4 separate regions of the Homo sapiens genome follow, and regions 1, 2 and 3 are each linked to region 4. The links come from fine-mapping of genetic effects on gene expression. A gene starts in region 4. Each other region holds a variant in brackets. All regions are shown on one strand. Distances are from middle to middle.

The links. PIP is the estimated chance that this variant, and not a neighbour inherited with it, causes the effect.
Region 1: its variant is the best candidate, but not a certain one, in a credible set for the expression of CHD1L in whole blood (TOPMed, PIP 0.89).
Region 2: its variant is the best candidate, but not a certain one, in a credible set for the expression of CHD1L in whole blood (TOPMed, PIP 0.54).
Region 3: its variant is the best candidate, but not a certain one, in a credible set for the expression of CHD1L in whole blood (INTERVAL, PIP 0.59).

What each region holds. Positions count from the first base shown.
Region 1 is chr1:147,440,515-147,446,689 of GRCh38, forward strand. The region is part of intron 3 of LINC00624 (long intergenic non-protein coding RNA 624); the gene reads right to left. It also overlaps the pseudogene OR13Z2P. Among named protein-coding and RNA genes, the nearest start is that of LINC00624, 74 kb to the right of the region's middle. The variant A/T (reference allele first, on the strand shown) is at 3,051.
Region 2 is chr1:147,005,247-147,011,421 of GRCh38, forward strand. No RefSeq gene overlaps it. Among named protein-coding and RNA genes, the nearest start is that of TRH-GTG1-2, 65 kb to the right of the region's middle. The variant G/A (reference allele first, on the strand shown) is at 2,731.
Region 3 is chr1:147,119,364-147,125,538 of GRCh38, forward strand. No RefSeq gene overlaps it. Among named protein-coding and RNA genes, the nearest start is that of RNVU1-8, 38 kb to the left of the region's middle. The variant C/G (reference allele first, on the strand shown) is at 2,947.
Region 4 is chr1:147,239,733-147,245,907 of GRCh38, forward strand. CHD1L (chromodomain helicase DNA binding protein 1 like) reads left to right here and starts at 2,952. Exons shown (of 23, transcript NM_004284.6): 1 at 2,952-3,098. The coding sequence starts at 2,972. RefSeq lists a silencer at 2,784-3,403.

The DNA.
Region 1 (6,175 bases), 200 kb after region 4:
TGATGCATCTTTTCCTAAGTTATTGGCATTTAAATATATTATTTTGTGAAGTCCCTGTTCATGTCTGTTGCAGGAGTCTGGGCAAGACAAAATGGTGACTTGGACTGGGGTATCACTAGTGATGGTGGTGAGAAATGACAGTATTTGTAAAATTTGGAAGGTAGAGTCGAACAAAATATTTTATCCTGAAATATTTTACATGGACTACAAAATAATAGCATTGACAGCTTCAGTTGATTGAATACCTCTGAAGTACCAGGTACATTATTTATTTTATATCACATTACTTCTTCCAACAACTCTGATATAGGCATGAATAATATCAGAATACAATGAACAAACTGAAGAACCAGGAAGTCAGCTAACTTATCCACCATCTACACCTAGTAAGCAGTAGAAGTAGGATTTAAAAATCCCCATCTATCTGATTCAAGAGCCCACTCTTTCCAACATATCACCTCCTCTCTAAGATTGAAAAAGATGAGAAAATTACAGTTCATAAAAATGGTTGTGAGCTTATTAGAATGGATAGCTTAATAGAAAGTGGGTAATTCTATCAATTTTTTTCAAGAAATATGTAATGTTGGGCTGAGGATAAATCTTGGATTAATACAATTTAATAAGGTAACATATCTAAGTACATATGTTTAAAATTGTTATACCTTTTAAACTCTGAAAAGATAAATGACCCAAGTGATTTTTAAAAATTAGTATATTTCAAAACAGAGTCTTAAATTTTTATTCTGAAGAGATAATCAGAGATGCTCACATTTATGTGCGAAATTACAGCATTCATAGGGAATGGAGACAACCTGAATGTTTAACCAAAAAGGAGATATGAAGTTTATTTCATATAATGAAATACAATGCATCCCTAAGAAATGAAGCTCATAACTTTTTGTCATTTATTTTTAATTGTGGTAAAATACATATGTTTATTAGTTGACCATTTATAAGTGTACAATTTTATGGCATGAAATACATTCACAATATTGTATAACCATCACTGTTATCTATAACCAAAACTCTTTCATCGTCCTCAACATAAACTCTGTACCTATTAAACGGTAACTCCCCATTTCAACTCACCTTCAAGCCCCTGGTAACCTCTATTCTATTTTCCGTCTCCATTAATTTGCGTGTTCCAGGTATTTCATGTAAGTGGAGTACAAATACAATATTTATCTTTCTATATCTGGCTTATTTTACTTAGCATAATATCTTCAAGGTCTATCCACGTTGTAGTATATATCAAAATTTCATTCCTTTTTATGGCTAAATAACAATTCGTTGTATGTATACACATTTTATATCTGCTGATGGACACTGGGGTTATTTCTGGCAATTGTGAACAAGGATGCTATGAACTGGGATGTACAAACATCTGTTTGAGTACCTGCTTTCAATTCTTTCAGATGTATTCCTAGGAGTAGAATTGCTGGATCATATGGTAGTTCTATGTTTAACTTTTTGAGGAACTGTCAAAATGTTTTCTAAAGCAGCTGCACCATCTTATATTAACATCAGCAATTCACGAGGGTTAAAATTTCTCCACATTGTTGCCAACATTTGTTATTTTCCATTTTCTTTATTATAGCCATTTTAGTAAATAAAAACTAGTATCTCATTGTAGTGTTGACTTGCATTTTCCTAATGACTAATGGTGTTGAGCATCTTTTCAGGCCCTTATTTGTATATCTTCTCAGGAGAAATGTCTATGTCCAGTGTCCACATTTGAATTGGTTGGTTTTTATTACTGTTGTTGAGTTGTAGGAGTTCTTTATATTATGAATATTAATGCATTACTAGATTTCTGATTTGCAGATATTTTCTTCCATTCTACAGATTGTCTTTTCACTTTATTGATGGCATCCTTTGGATGACACTTTCTTAATTTCAACGAAGTAAATGTTACCTACTTTTTCTTTTGTTGTCTGTACTTTTGGTGTTATTTCTATGAAATAATAATCCAAATTCAAATCCAATGACATGAAGATTGTCCCCAATTTTTTTCTGAGACTTTGACAGTTTTAGCTCTTATATTTAGGTCTTTGATCAATTTTGAGTTAATTTTGTATATAGTGTAAGTTAAGGGCCCCACTTCATTCTCTTGCATGTGGATATATAGTTTTCTTAGGACCATTTTCTGGAAAAACTGTTCTTTCCCCATTGAATAGACTTGACATGCATGTTTAAAATCAATTAACCAAGGGATGTGAAGGACCTCTTCAAGGATAACTACAAACCACTGCTCAACGAAATAAAAGAGGACACAAACAAACGGAAGAACATTCCATGCTCCTGGATAGGAAGAATCAATATCGTGAAAATGGCCATACTGCCCAAGGTAATTTATAAATTCAATGCCATCCCCATCAAGCTACCAATGACTTTCTTCACAGAATTGGAAAAAACTATTTTAAAGTTTATATGGAACCAAAAAAGAGCCCACATTGCCAAGTCAATCCTAAGCCAAAAGAACAAAGCTGGAGGCATCACGCTACCTGACTTCAAACTATACTACAAGGCTACAGTAACCAAAACAGCATGGTACTGGTACCAAAACAGAGATACAGACCAATGGAACAGAACAGAGCACTCAGAAATAATACCACACATTTAAAACCATCTGATCTTTGAAAACCTGACAAAAACAAGAAATGGAGAAAGGATTCCCTACTCAATAAATGGTGCTGGGAAAACTGGCTAGCCATATGTAGAAAGCTGAAACTGGATCCCTTCCTTACACCTTATACAAAACTCAATTCACAATGGATTAAAGACTTAAATGTTAGACCTAAAACTATAAAAATCCTAGAAGAAAACCTAGGCAATACCATTCAGGACATAGGCATGGGCAAGGACTTCATGTCTAAAACACCAAAAGCAATGGCAACAAAAGCCAAAATTGACAAATGAGATCTAATTAAACTAAAGAGCTTCTGCACAGCAAAAGAAACTACCATCAGTGTGAACAGGCAACCTAAAAAATGGGAGAAAATTTTTGCAAGCTACTCATCTGACAAAGGGCTAATATCCAGAATCTACAA[A/T]GAACTCAAACAAATTTACAAGAAAAAAACAACCCCATCAACAAGTGGACGAAGGATATGAACAGACACTTCTCAAGACATTTATGCAGCCAACAGACACATGAAAAAATGCTCATCATCACTGGCCATCAGAGAAATGCAAATCAAAACCACAATGAGATACCATCTCACACCAGTTAGAATGGCGATCATTAAAAAGTCAGGAAAGAACAGGTGCTGGAGAGGATGTGGAGAAATAGGAACACTTTTACACTGTTGGTGGGACTGTAAACTAGTTCAACCATTGTGGAAGTCAGTGCGGTGATTCCTCAAGGATCTAGAACTAGAAATACCACTGGACCCAGACATCCCATTACTGGGTATATACCCAAAGGATTATAAATCATGCTGCTCTAAAGACACATGTACATTTATTGCAGCACTATTCACAATAGCAAAGACTTGGAACCAACCCAAATGTTCATCAATGATAGACTGGATTAAGAAAATGTGGCATATATACACCATGGAATACTATGCAGCCATAAAAAATGATGAGTTCATGTCCTTTGTAGGGACATGGATGAAGCTGGAAACTATCATTCTCAGCAAATTATCACAAGGACAAAAAACCAAACACCACGTTCTCACTCATAGGTGGGAATGGAACAATGAGAACACTTGGACACAGGAAGGGGAACATCACACTCTGGGGCCTGTTGTGAGGTAGGGGAAGGAGGGAGGGATAGCATTAGGAGATATACCTAATGTAAATGGTGAGTTGATGGGTGCAGCGCACCAACATGGCAAATGTATACATATGTAACAAACCTGCATGTTGTGCACATGTACCCTACAACTTAAAGTATAATAAATAAATAAATAAATAAGAAAATCAATTAACCATATATGTGGAGGTTGATTTCTGAGCTCTCTGGTCTATCCCATCAGTCTATGACTGTTCTTATTACAGTACCATACTGTTTCAGTTTAGTGTATCGTTATTGTAAGTTTCAAAGCCAGGAAGTATGAGTCCTCTAACTTTATTCTTCCTTTTCAAGGTTATTTTGGCTATCCAGGGCCCCTTGCAATTCCATACAAATTTGAGGAGGGGCTTTTACATTTCTATGAAAATGGCTGCTGGAATATGATATGGATTTCATTGAATCTGTAGATCACTTTGGGTAGTAGTGATAACAAAGTTAAGTCTTTCTATCAATGAACTTAAGACATATTTCCATTTATTTAGGTTTTTCTTTAATTTATTTCAACAATGTTTCGTAGTTTTCAGAGTACAAGTTCTTCACCTCCTTCGTAAGATTTATTCTAACTACCTAATTCTTTTGTGTACTGTAAGTAGAATTGGTGTCTTAATTTCTTTTTTGAATTGCTATTGCTAGTATACAAACACACAACTGATTGTTGTGTGAGCAACTTTGCTGAATTTGCTTATTAGGGCTAGTAGTTTTCCAGAAGATTATTTGATATTTTCTCTATATATGATCATGCCATACTTGTATAGAGGTAGTTTTAGTTCTTCTTTTCCAATCTGGAAAAATTGTTAATATTTTAAAGCTATAGAGATCAAGATTTACGTAAAACAAAAAAAACTACAATGAAATACACTGAAAGGTAGTATTGACTGATTCTGCAGATGACTGAATTATTTATAGCTTTCTGCATGTTCTTAAATTTTTGTAATAAAATTTGTTTTATTACTTGCCAGGCACAGTGGCTCATGCCTGTAATCCCAGCACTTTGGGAGGCCAAGGCAGGCAGATCACAAGGTCAGGAGATCGAGACCATCCTGGCCAAAATGGTGAAGCCTCATCTCTACTAAAAATACAAAAATTAGCCAGGCATGGTGGCACGCGCCTGTAGTCCCAGCTACTCGGGAGGCTGATGCAGGAGAATTGCTTGAACCTGGGAGGCGGAGGTTGCAGTGAGCCGAGATTGTGCCACTGCACTCCAGCCTGGCGACAGAGCAAGGCTCTGTATGGTTTCTTTCTTCTTTGTTTTGTAGCTGTGACACCACTTGAAATAAGCAATCAAACATATGTCACCAAATTCATCTTTTGGGTATTTTCCAACCACTCCAACCTACAAGGTTTGTTCTTCCTGGTCTTTCTGGTCATTTACCTGACACTCTGGGAGAATATGCTCATAATGGTGGCCACCAGATTTAGCCCTCCACATTCCACTGTATTATCTCCTCAGTAACCTGAGCTTCCTGGATATCTGCTACATGTCTACCATCATCCTGGTCATGCTGGTGAACTTCTTCCAGGAGAAGAAGATCATCTCCTACGAAGGCTGCCTTTCCCAGATCTTTTTCCTTGCATCATGAGCCAGCACTGAGGGTGTCTTGCTGGCTGCCATGGCTTATGACCACTGTGTGGCCATTTGCCACCCTCTTCAATATAAGCTCCTAATGAGTGAAAAGTTCTGTTTGGTGACTGGGTTTTGGATGTGTGGGCTGGTCAATTCTGGGACACACACAGCACTGACAGCCACATTCATTCTGTGTAAACCCAACCCAATCAGCCACTTTCTCTGTGTCATCCCATTTTAATTATCCAGTCCCAAAAAATAGCAGTCACTCCCTATTTGCCCCCAATTTTGTAGCTCTAAACAACCACTAATCTGTTTCTGTGTTTTTGGATATTGCTATTCTGGATGTTTCATATAAAGGAAATCATATAATATGTGCCGGGTATGTCTAGCGTCTCTCACTTGATATAATGTTTTCAAGTTTCATCAACATGACAGCATGTATCAGTACTTCATTCCTTCCTACTGCTAAATAATTTCCATCATATAGATATACCAGATTTTATTAACCCATTTATCACTCGATAGACATTTTGGTTATTTTAACTTTTTATGAATAATGCTCCTATAAAAATTTATGTACGAATTTTTGGTAGACAAATATTTTTATATATCCTGGGTGTACAGCTAGGAAAAGAAGTGTTGGATCATATGGTAAATCTATGTTTAACTTTTTAAAGAACTTCCAGACAGTTTTCAAAGCAGTGGCACTGTTTTACATTACTAAAAACAGTGGATGGGGTTTCTAATTTCTCTAAATCCTCACCAATACTTATTGTTATGTCTGCCTTTTATTATAACCATCCTGGTATGTA
Region 2 (6,175 bases), 230 kb before region 4:
AGTGGTCACCATTACACCATGGAACCTCACACTAGCTTATAACTGGAGGTAACTGAGTTCATACTTAGCAGCCATAGTTCCCACACACCTATGTTAAGGCATTTCTTCTGATCCCTCAAGCAACACCAAAGAAGGTGGACCTGCGAGAGAGGATTCATCCTCTTTCTTTCTCTCTGCCCTCTCCTTTGATCAACTTTTATCATTTCATTTGCACCTCAGAAAATGAGGCAAAATCCAGTTTGGGCTTAGGGCCAGAGAAGAGCCCTTGAGGCCTCCCTCTGGAAAACATACTCTCTCAGTTTACCAGAGTTTCCTGTACCAAGGGGAAATTTCCGCAAACAGTAGTGTTATATTCTTTTTGCCTTCCCTCTTTTCCCTTTGCCCAGGGAGGCCAGATGATTGTGAGAACAGGACTTGGGACTTCCTGGGTGTCTTGCCCCCATCCTCCATGTGATAAATAATGGCTGACACCAAGCAAGTGGGATTCGGAGGCAGGGAATCTTTCATTTTCTTCTTCATATACTTCTATGCATTTGTTTGGTTGGTTTTGGCAAGATTTTCTCACCAGAAATGGAGAATTTGTTGGATTTAAAATAAAAAGTAATCAGCCATGTTTTACATTTCTATAAAACACTCAAACCAGGCCATACTCCCCTGCTGTGCCTCAAAATCAACCATAAACTGTCGAGGTCAGGAGGCAGGGCCCTGACACTTAAGCACAGTGTGTTTCCTCAGAATTGGCCAAGTTGACGCCACTCCAATTTCTCAATATACCACAACCCATTAATTGGGGTTTTTAAAAGTGTACATGTATTTTTACCAAAACCCCAGGGCTTCAGTGTTCTCAGCACACAGAAAGACAATCATTGAGACATTGAGTATTGCTGAGGAAGAAGGCTTTAATCAGGTGCTGCAGCTGAGTAGACAGGAGATGAGTCTTAAATCTGTCTCCCTGATTGACTAAAGTTAGGGGTTTATATAGCGCAGAAGAAAAGTTAACTGTGTGTAGGAAAAGAGGAACTAGGGAGGGGTGAGGAAGCACTCGTGATGAGTGAGGGGACTGGCATCTCATTGTCTGGATGCTGTGATTGGCTGAGTTTCAGGTCTCTGATGCTTTTTGAGAGGCCTGAGAGTCCTTTCCTGAGGAAGGAACTCAGATAAAACAAATATAAGTTTGTTTTATAGAATGGCTTGACCTCAGGAGTTTGAAACCAGCCTGGGCAATATGGTGAAACCCTGTCTCTACCAAAATACAAAAAGAAAAAGAGGGTTGCTTCCAAGATGGCTGAATAGGAACAGCTCCGGTCTACAGCTTCAAGTGAGATAGACGCAGAAGACAGGTGATTTCTGCATTTCCAACTGAGGTACCTCGTTCATCTCACTGGGACTCGTTGGACAGTGTATGCAGCCCATGGAGGATGAGCCAAAGCAGGGTGGGGTGTTGCCTCACCCGAGAAGTGCAAGGGGTTGGGGGATTTCTTTTTCCTAGCCAAGGGAAGATGTGAGTGACTGTACCTCGAGGAGCAGTACACCCCTGCCCAAATACTGTGCTTTTTTCCACTGTCTTTGCAACCGACAGACCAGGAGATTCCCTCTTGTGCCTGGCTCGGCAGGTCCCATGCCCATGGAGCCTTGCCTGCTGCTAGCACAGCAGTCTGAGATCAACCTGTGGCACTGGAACATGGCAGGGGGAGGGGGTTCTGCCACTGCTGAGGCTTGAGTATGTGGTTCTATGGTCACAGTGTAAATAAAGTGGTAGGGAAGCTCAAACTGGGTAGAGCCCACTGCAGCTCAGCAAGGCCTACTGCCTCTAGATTCCACCTCTGGGGGCAGGGCATATCTGAATAAAAGGCAGCAGACACCTTCTGCAGACTTAAACGTCTTTGCCTGACAGCCCTAAAGACAGCAGTAGTTCTCCCAGCATGGCATTTGAGCTCTGATAATGGACAGGCAGCCTCCTCAAGTGGGTCTCTGACCACCATGTAGCCTAACTGGGAGACACCTCCCAGTAGGGGCCGACAGACACCTTATACAGGTGGGTGCCCCTCTGGGACAAAGCTTCCAGAGGAAGGATCAGGCAGCAATATTTGCTATTCTGCAGCCTCTGCTGGTGATAGCTGGGCAAACAGGGTCTGGAGTGGACCTCCAGCAAATTCCAACAGACCTGCAGCTGAGGGACCTGCCTGGTTAGAAGGATTAACAAACAGAAAGGAATAGCATCAACATCAACAAAAAGGACATCCACACTAAAACCCCATCTGTAGGTCACCAACATCAAAGACCAAAGTAGTACATAAAACCACAAAGATGGGGAGAAACCAGAGCAGAAAGGCTGAAAATTCCAAAAACCAGAACACCTCTTCTCCTCCAAAGGAACACAAGTCCTCACCAGCAAGGGAACAAAACTGGATGGAGAATTAGTTTGATGAGGTGACAGAAGCAGGCTTCAGAAGGTCGGTAATAACAAACTTCTCCGGGCTAAAGGAGCATGTTCTAACCCATCACAAGGAAGCTGAAAACCTTGAAAAAAGGTTAGATGAATGGCTAACTAGAATAAACAGTGTAGAGAAGAGCTTAAGTGACCTGAAGGAGCTGAAAACCACAGTATGAGAACCTCGTGAAGCATAAACAAGATTCAATAGCCAATTCAATCAAGCAGAATAAAGAATATCAGTGATTGAAGATCAAATTAATGAAATAAAGCGAGAAGACAAGATTAGAGAAAAAAGA[G/A]TAAAAAGAAATGAACAAAGACTCCAATAAATATGGGACTATGTAAAAAGACCAAATCTACATTTGATAGCTGTACTGAAAGTGACAGAGAGAATGGAATCAAGTTGGAAAACGCTCTGCAGGATATTATCCAGGAGAACTTCCCCAATCTAGCAAGGCAGGCCAACATTCAAATTCAGGAAATACAGAGAACGCCACAAAGATACTCCCCGAAAAGAGCAACTCCAAGACACATAATTGTCAGATTCACCAAAGTTGAAATGAAGGAAAAAATGTTAAGGGCAGCCAGAGAGAAAGGTCGGGATACCCACAAAGGGAAGCCCATCAGACTAACAGCTGATCTCTTGGCAGAAACTCTACAAGCCAGGAGGGAGTGGGGGCTAATATTCGACAATCTTAAAGAAAAGAATTTTCAACACAGAATTTCATATCCAGCCAAATGAAGCTTCATAAGTGAAGGAGAAATAAAATACTTTACAGACAAGAAAATGCTGAGAAATTTTGTCACCACCAGGCCTGCCCTAAAAGAGCTCCTGAAGGAAGCACTAAATATGGAAAGGAACAACTAGTACCAGCCACTGCAAAAACATGCCAAATTGTAAAGACCATCGATGCTAGGAAGAAACTGCATCAACTAATGAACAAAATAACCAGCTAACATCATAATGACAGGATCAAATTCACACATAACAATATTAACATTAAATGTAAATGGACTAAATGCTCCAATTAAAAGACACAGACTGGCATATTGGATAAAGAGTCAAGACCCTTCAGTGTGCTGTATTCAGGAAACCCATCTCACATGCAGAGAAACATACAGGCTCAAAATAAAGGGATGGAGGAAGATCTACCAAGCAAATGGAAAACAAAAAAAGGCAGGGGTTGCAATCCTAGTCTGTGAAAAAACAGACTTTAAACCAACAAAGATCAAAAGAGACAAAGAAGGCCACTACATAATGGTAAAGGGATCAATTCAACAAGAAGAGCTAACTATCCTAAATATATATGCACCCAATACAGGAGCACCCAGATTCGTAATGCAAATCCTTAGAGACCTACAAAGAGGCTTAGACTCCCACACAATAATAATGGGAGACTTTAACACCCCACTGTCAACATTAGACAGATCAACAAGACAGAAAGTTAACAAGGATATCCAGGAATTGAATTCAGCTCTGTACCAAGTGGACCTAATAGACATCTACAGAACTCTCCACCACAAATCAACAGAATATACATTATTCTCAGCACCACACTGCACCTATTCCAAAATTGACCACATACTTGGAAGAAAAGCACTCCTCAGAAAATGTAAAAGAACAGAAATTATAACAAACTGTCTCTCAGACCACAGTGCAATCAAACTAGAACTCAGGATTAAGAAACTCAATCAAAACCACTCAACTACATGGAAACTGAACAACCTGCTCCTGAATGACTACTGGGTAAATAATGAAATGAAGGCAGAAATAAAGAGGTTCTTTGGAACCCACGGGAACAAAGACACAACAAACCAGAATCTCTGGGACACATTTAAAGTAGTGTGTAGAGGGAAATTTATAGCAATAAATGCCCACAAGAGAAAGCACGAAAGATCTAAAATTGACACCCTAACATCACCATTAAAAGAAGTAGAGAAGCAAGAGAAAACACATTCAAAAGCTAGCAGAAAGCAAGAAATAACTAAGATCAGAGCAGAGCTGAAGGATATAGAGACACAAAAATCCCTTCAAAAAATCAATGAATCCAGGAGCTGGTTTTTTGAAAAGATCAACAAAATTTATAGACCGCTAGCAAGACTAATAAAGAAGAAAAGAGAGCAGAATCACATAGATGCAATAAAAAATGATAAAGGGGATATCACCACTGATCCCACAGAAATACAAACTACCTTCAGAGAATACTATAAACATCTCTATGCAAATAAACAAGAAAATCTAGAAGAAATGGATAAATTCCTTGACACATAAACCCTCGCAAGACTAAACCAGGAAGAAGTTGAATCTCTGAATAGACCAATAACAGGATCTGAAATTCAGGCAATAATTAATAGCTTACCAACCAAAAAAAGTCCAGGACCAGATGGATTCACAGCCGAATTCAATCAGAGGTACAAGGAGGAGCTGATATCATTCCTTCTGAAACTATTCCCATCAATAGAAAAAGAGAGAATCCTCCCTAACTCATTTTATGAGGCCAGCATCATCCTGATACCAAAGCCTGGCAGAGACAAAACAAAAAAGGAGAATTTTAGACCAATATCCCTGATGAACATCGATGCAAAAATCCTCAATAAAATACTGGCAAACCGAATCCAGCAACACATCAAAAAGCTTATCCACCATGATCAAGTGGGCTTCATCCCTGGGATGCAAGGCTGGTTCAACATACACAAATCAATAAACGTAATCCAGCATATAAACAGAACCAACGACAAAAACCATGAGTATTTCAATGGAGGCCGAAAAGGCCTTCGACAAAATTCAACAGCCCTTCATGCTAAAAACTCTCAATAAATTAGGTATTGATGGGACGTATCTAAAAATATTGAGAGCTATTTATGACAAACCCACAGCGAATATCATACTGAATAGGCAAAAACTGGAAGCATTCCCTTTGAAAACTGGCACAAGACAGGGATGCCCTCTCCCACCACTCCTATTCAACATAGTGTTGGAAGTCCTGGCCAGGGCAATCAGGCAGGAGAAAGAAATAGAGCCTTTTCCTCAATTAGGAAAAGAGGAAGTCAAATTGTCCCTGTTTGCAGATGACATGACTGTATAACTAGAACCCCCCATCACCTCAGCCCAAAATCTCCTTAAGCTGATAAGCAACTTCACCAAAGTCTCAGGATACAAAATCAATGTGCAAAAATCACAAGCATTCTTATACACCAATAACAGACAAACAGAGAGCCAAATCATGAGTGAACTCCCATTCACAATTGCTTCAAAGAGAATAAAATACCTGGGAATACAACTTACAAGGGATGTGAAGGAACTCTTCAAGGAGAACTACAAACCACTGTTCAAGGAAATAAAAGAGGACACAAACAAATGGAAGAACATTCCATGCTCATGGAGAGGAATAAACAATATCGTGAAAATGGCCATACTGCCCAAGGTAATTTATAGATTCAATGCCATCCCCATCAAGCTACCAATGACTTTCTTCAAAGAATTAGAAAAAACTACTTTAAAGTTCATATGTAACCAAAAAAGAGCCCACATTGCCAAGTCAATCCTAAGCCAAAAGAACAAAGCTGGAGGCATCACACTACCTGACTTTAAACTATACTACAAGGCTACAGTAAACAAAACAGCATGGTACTGGTACCAAAACGGAGATACAGACCAATGGAACAGAACAGAGCCCTTAGAAATAACACCACACATCTACAACTATCTGATCTTTGACAAACCTGACAAAAACAAGAAATGCG
Region 3 (6,175 bases), 120 kb before region 4:
CTGTCACAACTCTCACATTTAGAATATATTTCTTTCTCTTACGGGAGGACAAACAGCCTTGTCCCACCTTTCTCCATGCATTGGGAGACTTCACAAGCCCTCCAAGTTGGCTTCTGCTGTGTTATTCAGGGACATTCTCTCCATGGGGAGTGCTCCAGTCTGAAGCACTTCCTACCACCAAATGCCCCCACATCAAGTGCCTTCTCCAACACCACACGGTGAGGGGCTTCATCTTATTTTGAAATGTAATCATAAGTGTTCCCATATTTGAATGCTGTATCTACCATTGAAGAGACATTTTGACCCCTGTAGAGATTTAGACAAAGAAATCCAGAAAGGATAAATCAATCACTCACCCAAGGTTACTAAGGACATTGCTGAAGATACAGCCTGGGAAACTTCATTCTTAATCCAGGACTCTTTTTACTCTAACAAGTTGCCTCCTGTCACAGCCTCCTTCCTATCCTTTAAAACTGAATGGATATGGCCTCTTGCTCCAAAGAACGTGACTATCAAGGAGGAGGAGACATTTGCAATACTGTGACCTCTAACCCCATGGACTTCTTGTCTCTGTTCCTACCCAGGAAATCCTGGTCATGTCATGGCCACATATGTTTAATGGAAAGAAACACCACCTATGTAACTGTCATTGTGGAGGTATGGAGGTGTAGAGTCTCTCACAAGCCTGGGGTTTTGTGTCATCAGGGCCTGTGGTCTCCTTATCTGGGCTGAGCTTGTGGACAAGGTGCTCAGCCAGCCTGCTCTCAGAGGTCCTGCCCCTGGGAGTTGTCAGAATCATCAGGAGTGAGGAGGGCCTTGAGATGCTGATTCAGTAAGAGGAAGGCATCTCTCCCTTCCCGTAACTTGTCCTGTAACTGGGCCGGCTCTCGGGCCTGGGAGTGAACAGAGACTTTATATTGCCTAAGGTGGGATAGTAGAGAAAATTTAGTAGTGGAAAGAGATGAGTGATCAGTTCTAATATCGAAACAAAGGAGCCCTCCACGCAGAAAGTCAGCACATATTAAAGGAAATGCCTGTTGCAAAGAGAAAGAAAAATGTATTTTTTTAAAAAAACAGGTCTTCCCCACTGCGATAGAGAGAGAGAGCTCCAGGAAGATTTTTCAACATTCCATTCATCTTTTTCTTCTGTAACCAAATCAGTTCCAAAAGGATTTTCCTTCAATTTCTCATTTTGCCTGTGGACATTTTCATGTTCAAATACACATCGTGCATTATTCAGTGACTGGACACAAAGCCGTGCACAGAAATGTGGCCAGGTACAACTGGAAACATGAAAGAATAAAAGAATGACAGTGTCAAGAAGGCAATAGTGGTTGAAGAAATGAGAAGCCCAAGTCAGTTAGGAGTTGATTCTGACTAAGAGTAAATGCAGTGGTGATCGCACAGCATCTTGAGTATACTGAATGCTGCTGGGTAGTTCACTTTCCTTTGGTTAATTTTGTGTTATGCAAATTTCACCTCAACAATTACTTGTTAGAAAAAGAGAAAACGAGGCTCTGAGAAATAACTGCAACCCATAAATTACTATTATTGTTCTCTGTTTTATAAATATTTGTGTGACATGTGTCTGCCATGGCAATTCCTGCCCTTCCCCTGGCTCGGCTTAGCTCTTACTTCTCCCCCGCTGAGCTGCTGCACAGAGATTCACACTCCTGCCCACCTGCCTGCCCCCAATGGGGCCCCCTCACCTGAGCTTTCCAGCTTGCCTGAGCTTCTCTGCCAGCTTCTCCTCCTTGAACTGCAGCTCATCCCTCAGCCTAGATTTTATGAGGTCTTTGCACTCTTCACACTCTGAGAAAAGACAGACACACCTGCCTCAGTGGAAGGCTGGACATGCTGTTGCAGTCACTGCCTACAGGGCAGGAGCCAGGTCCATCCCAAGGACAAAACTGTCCCCAGTACCAGGCTCTAGGCAGGGATTGCACATCTTTACTCTTCAGTCTCCTCACTTCCTGGCATCTGATACTCCCCAACTTAGAGATAGGAAAAAAGCTCAGGGGCCCACCAAGCAACTTGACAAGATGATTCACCTGGAATGAGGTAGGGTCAGAATTCACAGCCCCTGAGGTCTGACTCTGAATCATGGGACACTTTCCCAAGCCTTGCAGCCTCTCCTGCACTGGGGCATAAAGTAGTGATTTTCTGTACAGCTGGGAAGGCTTCTAGGACTATGGGACTGTGAAAGGAAAATATCTTGGGCCTCCAAAATCACTAAGGAAAACTCAAGCTGGGAACTGCTTAAGGCAAACCTGCCTCCCATTCTATTCAATCACTCCTCTGCTCACTGAGATAGATGTATATCTGATTTGACTACTTTGGAAAGGCTAATCAGATACTCAAAATAATGTAACCATTTGTGTGTCACCCATCTGTGACCTGGAAGCTCCCTCCCATGGAAGCTCCCTCTCCACTTTGAGTTTTCCTGCCTTTCCTTCAAGATTTCCTGTCTTTCCAGACTGAACCAATTTACTTCTTACATATATTGGTTGATGTCTCATGTCTCCCTAAATGTATAAAACTAAGCCGTGCCCCAACCACCTTGGGTACATGTCGTCAGGACCTCCTGAGGCTGTGTCCTTGTGCGTCCTCAACCTTGGCAAAATAAACCTTCTAAATCAACTGAGACCTGTCTCAGATTTGTTGGGTTCACATTTTGGTAACCACCACGGGGGGATTCTGAGTGGAGATGCCCCTGACCTTTGACAAATCTCCTGTCAGTGCTTGGTACCAGCATGAGCTAACTTTATGGCTCAAGCCAATAGGATAATTTGCTGAGATCTGACAGCACCCCCTCCAGAGAATCCCTGATCTCCCCAAATTTGGTTGAGATCTTAAGTTTATTTTACTGTACAACTCTTCTTTTTTTGGAGTTTTACTTGCTTTCAACAGGAAGGCAAATTTTCCTGCTTCCATGACAATGGAATG[C/G]AGGTAACTCCTTTATGAAGTTTGAGCTTGCTTCTTCCAACAGGGAAGATGAGTTGTTTTCTCTTCTTCTAGGATGGTAGAGAGCAGTCTACAGACTGAGACCAATCACTAGTTAAGAAACTAGTTTGGGATTGTATCTTGCAAATTCCTTTTAAACGACTAAAATAAGCATTTAACAACCAGCTGGTGTTAATTTCTGCTTACACTTAGAGTACTCAGAAATCATATAATTTGGATCTTCCTGCCTTTGCTTCAAGTTGTCCCGCCTTTCCAGACTGAACAAATGCACTTCTTACATATATTAATTGATGTCTCATGACCACCTTGGGCACATGTCGTCAGGACTTCCTGAGGCTGTGTCCCACGTGCGTCCTCAACCTTGGCAAAATAAACTTTCTAAATTAACTGAGACCTGTCACAGATTTTGTGTGTTCACAGGACTGATTTCTTTTTTAACTGGGAATTTTAAGCACCAATATGTGCAAGATTTTAAAAATCATATCTGGATATAATTGCATAAAATATGAGGCATAAGACCATAAGGTCATGAAGGAAATATGCCCAAATACTAATCAAGTTCCTGTTAAGTTAGAAACCGTAGAATGAAGAACTAATAGTGTTTACTCTGTGCCAACAACTGTTCCAGGAGGTTTACAAGCAATAGGTTGTATAATTCATTGTAGCAATTTACCAAGGTAGGTATTATTATAATACCCATGAACAGATGAGGAAACTAAGGCACAGAGAAGATGAGCAACTTGGATGGAGCCCAGGAAACTAGCCCAGGGTCCCTGCTTTACACACTGCTACCTCCACACAGTCTTGGGGGCTCTCTTTTTTCCTCTTTAGAAATAAGAGCCTCAGCCAGGTGTGGTGGCTCATGCCTGTAATCCCAGCACTTTGAGAGGCCGAGGCGGGCGGATCACCTGAGGTCAGAAGTCCGAGACCAGCCTGACCAACATGGAGAAACCCCATTTCTATTAAAAATACAAAAATTAGCTGGGTGTGGTGGTGCATGCCTGTAATCTCAGCTACTTGGGAGGCTGAGGCAGGAGAATCACTTGAACCCAGGAGGCAGAGGTTGTGGTGAGTCGAGATCGGGCCATTGCACTCCAGCCTGGGCAACAAGAAAGAGTGAAACTCTGTCTCAAAAAAAAAAAGAGAGAGAAATAACAACCTGTGCCCCAGGAAGCAAGACTTCCCTGTCACCAGGGTATTCCCTGCTCTTGATGCTGTCACTTATGGATACCACAATTTCTATTAGGTGCAGACTCCTCTTTAAGCTCCTTGGAGTTGGTACTGTGTGCTATCACCACGTTTCCACCAGGGTCCTCAGCATGGAACTTTGCCTATCAGGCCTCAACAGCCTGAACTGAATGGAAATTCATTAGTCCCAGATATGTAGAGCCACAGATTAGATGCTACTTGTCTGCAGGATCTTATATGGTACAGAGAGAATTCTTGTAAACATGATTTAGCCTCTTGCTGAGAAAAACAGGTGGTTCTGTTCCTATGTCAGAAATCAATAACTGGTATTTTAACTCTAGTCCCACCCCACACCAAATTGCAAACATGGAAAAGTTGCTGAATACTTTGTGCCTCTGTTTTCCATCTTTTAAAAAATGAGGTTAAAATATCCTCTTCTGTTTTCCTAGAAGCATGGAAAGGATAAAATTAATTTTGATTAAGAGAGCATTTCATCTCTCAGGGAGAAGATGGGCGATCATTCATCATTTTTGGTATAGTGAGCCTATAGAATTTACTGTACTTCTTCAGCTGGTTGGCCAGGGAGTAGGCAATAGTTTGAGTTATAAGAAATTTCTCTTTGAGGTCTCAGAACTGCTGTTTGCTCTATGCCAGCTGCGAGCGCAATTCTTGGTTGATTTCTAGGATGTTCATCTCTGCCCTCTCACTCAACAAAAGGCTGGCAGATACAGCCATGCTGACATTTATGCCAGAAGAGGTTGAGCCAGGGACTAAGGAGAAGAAACCCAAACACATAATGGGTTGAAGACTAGTGAAATCAAATAGGTTTAATCAGGACTGAGGGATGACAGTAACTGGAATTGTTACCGCTGAGAAAAACTTGATCACTCCCCACAGCACTTTAGAGTCCTTAACCACAAAAACAGAGTTTGAGATGCCAGATATCTGAGCCAAAGTCACTGCCTGTAGCTCAGGCTCTGATAAGAGTGAGGCAGCTAGTGGCCAGCGTGCCAGGTAATGGCCTGCAGTTGCAATAACAAAATTAGAAGGTGGGAGTGTCATGGAATCTTAGGAACCCTGCATTACAATTGCCCAGGGTTTGCTGAAATACAACACCTCCTGGTCTTACCTGAGGGTCACCATTGAGGGGGACCATTCGTTCAGCAGTCATTCTCAGTATTTGTGTACTTTTGTGACAATGCCACAGATCCATCTCTTTCCCAATACAACTAAGCATATCCTCATTGTTCGCTTCTTGTGTGTACAAGGCAGAAACAGTTTCCCAACAGGTTATATTTTCCTTTTTTTCTTTTTTTTATTATTATTATACTTTAAGTTTTAGGGTACATGTGCACAATGTGTAGGTTAGTTATGTATGTATACATGTGCCACGCTGGTGTGCTGCACCCGTTAACTCATCATTTAGCATTAGGTATATCTCATAATGCTATCCCTCTCCCCTCCCCCCACCCCACAACAGTCCCCAGAGTGTGATGTTCCCCTTCCTGTGTCCATGTGTTCTCATTGTTCAATTCCCACCTATGAGTGAGAATATGCAGTGTTTGGTTTTTTGTCCTTGCAATACTTTACTGAGAATGATGATTTCCAATTTCATCCATGTCCCTACAAAGGACATGAACTCATCATTTTTTATGGCTGCATAGTATTCCATGGTGTATATGTGCCACATTTTCTTAATCCAGTCTATCATTGTTGGACATTTGGGTTGGTTCCAAGTCTTTTCTATGGTGAATAGTGCCGCAATAAACATATGTGTGCATGTGTCTTTATAGAAGCATGATTTATAATCCTTTGGGTATATACCCAGTAATGGGATGGCTGGGTCAAATGGTATTTCTAGTTCTAGATCCCTGAGGAATCGCCACACTGACTTCCACAATGGTTGAACTAGTTTACAGTCCCACCAACAGTGTAAAAGTGTTCCTATTTTTCCACATCCTCTCCAGCACCTGTTGTTTCCTTTTTAATGATTGCAATTCTAAATGGTGTGAGATGATATCTC
Region 4 (6,175 bases):
CAGTCTACCTGGCTTATAGCTAGGACTCTATCATCTGGTATTCTGTTACAACAAATGTACTTTAAGTTAAAAATAATAAACAGGCTTATATTTAAGTGGCAAGTGCTTGATATGGCTGCTTTAGCAGATAAGTCTACTGGTAGAATCTAGAGGAGAGGAAATAAGTCATACATGGAGACCAAGATGCAAAAACCACTCATGAGCAGCCACATAGGACAGAGGTCCCTCTGGAGAAGCCACCAAAGGATATAAATCTCTCTTCAGGTTTGTTTTGAGAAAACACCCAAGCAGGAAAGCTGCTGTACAAAATTACTATTGCCCCATTATGCGATTGTGTTTTACTTTTGTCTTAGCATTAATCCTACCTTGTGGGGAAAAGAAAGAGAGCTCAGACTGCTACTGTGTCTGTGTAGAAAGAAGTAGAAATAAGAGACTCCATTTTGGTCTGTTCTAAGAAAAATTCTTCTGCCTTGAGATGCTGTTAATCTGTAACCCTACCCCCAACCCTGTGCTCCCTGAAACATGGGCTGTGTCCACTCAAGGTTAAATGGATTCAGGGCTGTGCAGGATGTGCTTTGTTAAACAAATGCTTGAAGGCAGCATGCTTGTTAAGAGTCCACTCCCTAATCTCAAGTACCCAGAGACACAATACACTGCGGAAGGCCGCAGGGACCTCTGCCTAGGAAAGCCAGTTATTGTCCAAGGTTTCTCCCCATGTGATAGCCTGAAATATGGCCTTGTGGGAAGGGAAAGACCTGACCGTCCCCCAGCCTGACACCCATAAAGGGTCTGTGCTGAGGAGGATTAGTAAAAGAGAAAGGAAGGCCTCTTTGCAGTTGAGATAAGAGGAAGGCATCTGTCTCCTGCTCATCCCTGGGCAATGGAATGTCTCGGTGTAAAACCCGATTGTATATTCCATTGACTGAGATAGGAGAAAACCACCTTAGGCCTGGAGGTGGGACATGTGGGCAGCAATACTGCTCTTTAAGGCATTGAGATGTTTATGTGTATGCACATCAAAAGCACAGGACTTTTTTCTTTACCTTGTTTATGATGCAGAGACATTTGTTCACATGTTTTCATGCTGACCGTCTCTCCACTATTACCCTATTGTCCTGCCACATCCCACTCTCTGAGAAATGCCCGATAATGATCAATAAATACTAAGGGAACTGAGGCTGGTGCCAGCGCAGGTCCTCTGTATGCTGAGCGCCGGTTCCCTGGGCCCACTTTTCTTTCTCTATACTTTGTCTCTGTGTCTCTTTTTTTTCTTAAGTCTCTCATTCCACCCGACGAGAAATACCCACAAGTGTGGAGGGGCAGGCCACCCCTTCACTACCTGATTTTTATTTATTGCTTGTCTCCTCCTTTTAAAATGTAAGATCCAGGAGATAAGTGGCCTCTATCTTCAGTACCATAGAGTGCTTGGCACATAGTATGTAATTCAGTCAGTGTCAGGCCTCTGAGCCCAAGCTAAGCCATCATATCCCCTGTGACCTGCACGTACACATCCAGATGGCTGGTTCCTGCCTTAACTGATGACATTCCACCACAAAAGAAGTTTAAATGGCCCGTCTTTGCCTTAAGTAATGACATTACCTTGTGAAAGTCCTTTTCCTGGTTCATCCTGGCTCAAAAAGCTCCCCTACCGAGCACCTTGTGACCTCTCACTCCTGCCCGCCACAGAACAAACCCCCTTTGACTGTAATTTTCCTTTACCTACCCAAATCTTATAAAACGACCCCACCCCTATCTCCCTTCGCTGACTCTTTTCGGACTCAGCCCACCTGCACCCAGGTGAAATAAACAGCTTTATTGCTCACACAAAGCCTGTTTGGTGGTCTCTTCACACGGACGCGCATGAAAGTCAGTATTTATGAATGACTCAAGACACAAAAATAGCTTCATAAAACAGTGCTTTGCTTGAGTTTTTATGAATAAACCAATCTGAAGTCATCCCTTTTCTAGCTCAGAACAAATTTCTCCCTTTTATTTTAGAGGAAGATGAGAATGGAGGGTACAAATTTAACATGAGTTTACTGAAGAAGGAAGCACCAAGATTAACCTAAATGAGAATACTATTCTAATGACATTAGCCAGAGAATAATATCGTTCCTGTTCCAGTACTGCCAATTACCATTACAAGTCCCAATATCTTCATTTACAATGTGGGGACAATTATAACACCTAATTATTGGTTATTGTGAAGGTTAAATAAGAAAATATACTTAAAGCCCTTAGGACACCACCCAGAACTTCATCAATAAATGCAGCTATTTTGTTATTATCATATTTATATTAGTGGTATACTACATCATAAATCCACTCAAAGCTGATGCTGAGTCACGGTGACCCCTAACTGAACACATTGCCTCAATCTGCTCCCCATAATGCACTTGAGATACCCACTGCCACAATGACGTCTTTGGTGATTTTAATTTACTACTATTCAGAGGTTCCCAATTTTGGCCTACAGGTCACAGGCAGTAAGAAAGGGATTTCAGGGACTAAATCAATTTATCACTAGGTAAACCGAACAAGAACAGTTTGATCTTATCGTGAATCACTGGAGGGCACGGAACAAGTCTTACTTCTAGAACCCCCAGGGCCCAGCGGAGTGTCTGACACATGATAGTCGATGTTGATTAAATAATAAATGAATGATGAACACATGCCACCTCCTTGACGGGCAGTTCAGGCAATCAGACGTCCTGTGCGTGATCAGACGCCTAGCGCTTCAGAAGCACGACTGGTGAGAACTGGGCAGCCCTTCCACGCTCCGCACTGCAAGAACTGCCTGTCCGGAAGGGTGACTGCACCAGCTCCGCTCCGGATATCTTGGCAGGACGCGCCCTCTGGCGGCGCCTCGCTCGTAGGTGGGCCCCAGCGCGCAGTCGCGCGCCCCCGCGCGTTGGGAAGTTGGGAGGGAGGTGCGCGCTTGGCCGCGCGGGGCGGGGCCTCTACCGGCCCGATGGAGCGCGCGGGCGCTACTAGCCGCGGGGGCCAAGCCCCTGGCTTCTTACTGCGGCTTCATACTGAGGGCCGAGCCGAGGCGGCGCGGGTGCAGGAGCAGGACTTACGGCAGTGGGGGCTGACAGGTGAGCGGGCTCCGGGCGGACTTCGGCCAGGCGGGCCAACCTATTGGGACTGCCTCTTGCGGGCCGGGGGCGCAGCGGGTGGGCCGCCCGGTGGGCAGTTTACCCGCTCGCGCCAGGGCCTTCCTTCGCTCCTGCCGTGGGCGGAGAGAAACTGCGCCCGGGCTTGGTGGCCACGGCCCCCGCCTGCGCGGCGCGCGGGGCCGGCGGACGCCAGATGAATGAGGTCGCGGGCCCGGTAGCCAGGCCTGGCCCCTGGCCTGTGGAGGGGAAACGTGGTGAGATCAGCGCCACCTGCAGGCCTCCGCTGAAGAGTTGGACGGCCTGGTGCACCAAGGATGTAGGTTTCCAGTTGCTGTTCCGGTGGGTTTGGGTCCCGGCCTGGGGAGTTTATTGGTTGCTTCTGTAAAACGATCAACTCATCTCCCAGCTTCAGCTTCTCCGTTTACTGTGCGCGCGCAGTTATTGGAGAATTCGCCACGGATTAATTCTCCGGATCGAGTTACGTGCGGTAGTGAGCGGACAAACTCAAGCAAAGCACTGTTTATGAAGCTATTTTTGTGTCTTGAGTCATTCATAAATACTGACTGAACCACGTACTATATGCCAACTTAGCTTGTCCGCTCACCACCGCACGTAACTCGATTTATTGACACTAGCCCTTACGGAGAGTCTGCAAAGCGCGAACCTTGCATGCCCCCCAGCCCTGCCGCTGCATGGCTGACCGTACTTCCTGCAGCTCCGAGACCCCGCTCTCCTCCTGGGTCTGCGCTGACTCGCCGCTGAACCGCCCCAGCCTCGTTTTCCTTACTTATAAGTTGGGAACGTAGTGTGTGCTTTGACTGTATTGACAGAATCATGCATCAGTAATAATACAGTCGTTTATTCATTACTTATTGAATGCTACTGGGAGCGTATTCTTAGGCATTGGCTACAAAGATGAGCAAAACAAATAGGGACCCTTCCTACCTAGAGTTTTAGACTAGTGAGAGTGCATTTAAAAGTATAAACTAATTTATTTAAGTGCTCAGTACCACGAAAGAGTAAGGTTTGTCATTCTAGGAATGAAACAAAAGGTGCAATTCTGTGTTCAGCTTAGAAGACTGAAAGATGAAGTTGAATGGAGAGGACGCTGACATGAAAGAGAAAGACCTCTCTCCTTGATTCCCTGAGTCTGTAAGAATGTGTGGCTGTAAGGAGTATGTATCCAGTTTTAAGTATGAGCTTGTAGACTGGTCTTTTTATGTTTGACTTTATCTTAACGAAAGTTTATGTTTGTGGGTTTGCCTATTTCCTTGCAAGTGTTGGGAATGGTTCTTTAAGAACTTGTGTGAGAGAGGGCTCAGAAAAGTGTGCCAGTTGATACTTAGCTGTGGATAATATGCCAGGAGAAACGTACATATGGGCAAGTGTTTTAGTGAAAATGAGGAGACAAGAGGTTGCAAGTTTGAGTGGATGGAATGGAGTGAGTAAATTCAGAATTAAGTAGGCAAATGTGGCAACTTGGATAAATTGGTAGTGGAGAAGGAAAATAGAAAAGCAGAGTCAAAGGAATGGCTACTGAATATTATAACTTGTAATTTCTATTTCTGTTTACCAGAATAAACTAGTGTTATGAGAAACTATTCTTCATGAGTTGGTTAAAAAAATTCTTACTACTTTTTTTTCGTTTGGTTACAGAAGTAGTACGTATTTTCAGTAAAACATTCAGGGAAATAGCCTATGCATAAAGAAAATAAATATTAATCTCCATAATCTCCTTACTGTTAACATGTTCTCTATCCTGTATAATTTCTTTTACTTTCTGGTGGAGGGGGAAGGTGAAAAATGGAGTTTCATGTACATTTTTTTGGGAAATCATAACTTTTTTTCCTTATCATTCAGTCTTCTTCAACATCATTCTTAATGGTTACAGTTTTTCAGTATATGGATGTACCATAGTTTAGACAGTCCCTCTTCTTGGTATTTAGGTTCTTTTTTTTGCTATTGTAAGTAACATAAATATCCTTGTAACCAAATATTTATTATAGGTATGGACGTTTAATTCCTGAAAGGTACCATTTCTAGAATAAAGAGTATGCAAAATTTTTGCTTATTTCTCTATACTCTCAGCAACACTGGTATTTTCTAATTTGAGAAGTTAATATGCTATCGTATTGTTTAATTTAATGTTTATTTGGTTACCAATATTGATGGACATTTGGATATTCATCTTTGGATCATGAAGTTACCTTAGGACCTTTTTGTTTCTGGAATATGCAGACCTATTACTTCTTGCTGTTTTGCTTGCTTTTTCACTACTTGTCATCTCCCTGACAGAAGGGCAAAAGAATCTACATCTGGAGGTTAAAAAGCTAAAGACTACCTTTCCCAGACCCCACTGTAGTTTGGTTGTAAACGTGACTTGGCTTTAGCCAGGCACGTGACTGGGAGATTTGGAAGGGGAAAGTGAGGGGAAGGACACAGAGGGGTTTGGATTTTCCGCTTCCCACTTAGCTACTACCTCATGGGTCTGTGGGAGGGTACAGAGCATTCATTTTGTTATCATGGATTGTGGCTGCGTTGATAGGTCCCTGGGGCTGACAGTACCGTGGCCTCCTGGTTGGTTCCTGGCTTCCAGGTCGTGGAGGTAGATACTTCCTTGGTGTGTCCATACTGTGGTGCTTGATTTAGCAGTTGTACCCAGAAGATCAGCCTAGATGTTACTCCTCCAGGCCTTTCGACAATTTTGTGGTGATCTAATTCCCTGTATTACATTCCTTTCTGCCTAACCTACCAAGGGTAATTTCTGGTTTTTGCTGTTGACTCCTAAGTGTTAAGTATTGTTATCTTTGTGGATATAATTACATATTATTTTTGAAAATTCAACTTTTTTTTTTTTTGAGATAAGGTCTCACTCTGTTGCCCAGGCTGGAGTGCAGTGGCCCATTGCAGCCTCGACCTGGGCTTCAGTGATCCTCCCACCTCAGCCTTCTGAGTAGCTGGGACTACAGGCATGAGTCACCAGTTTTAAGAAATAATACGGAAGGATCCCATGTAACCTTTACCCAGTTTCCCCTCGTGGTCATATCTTGCAATGT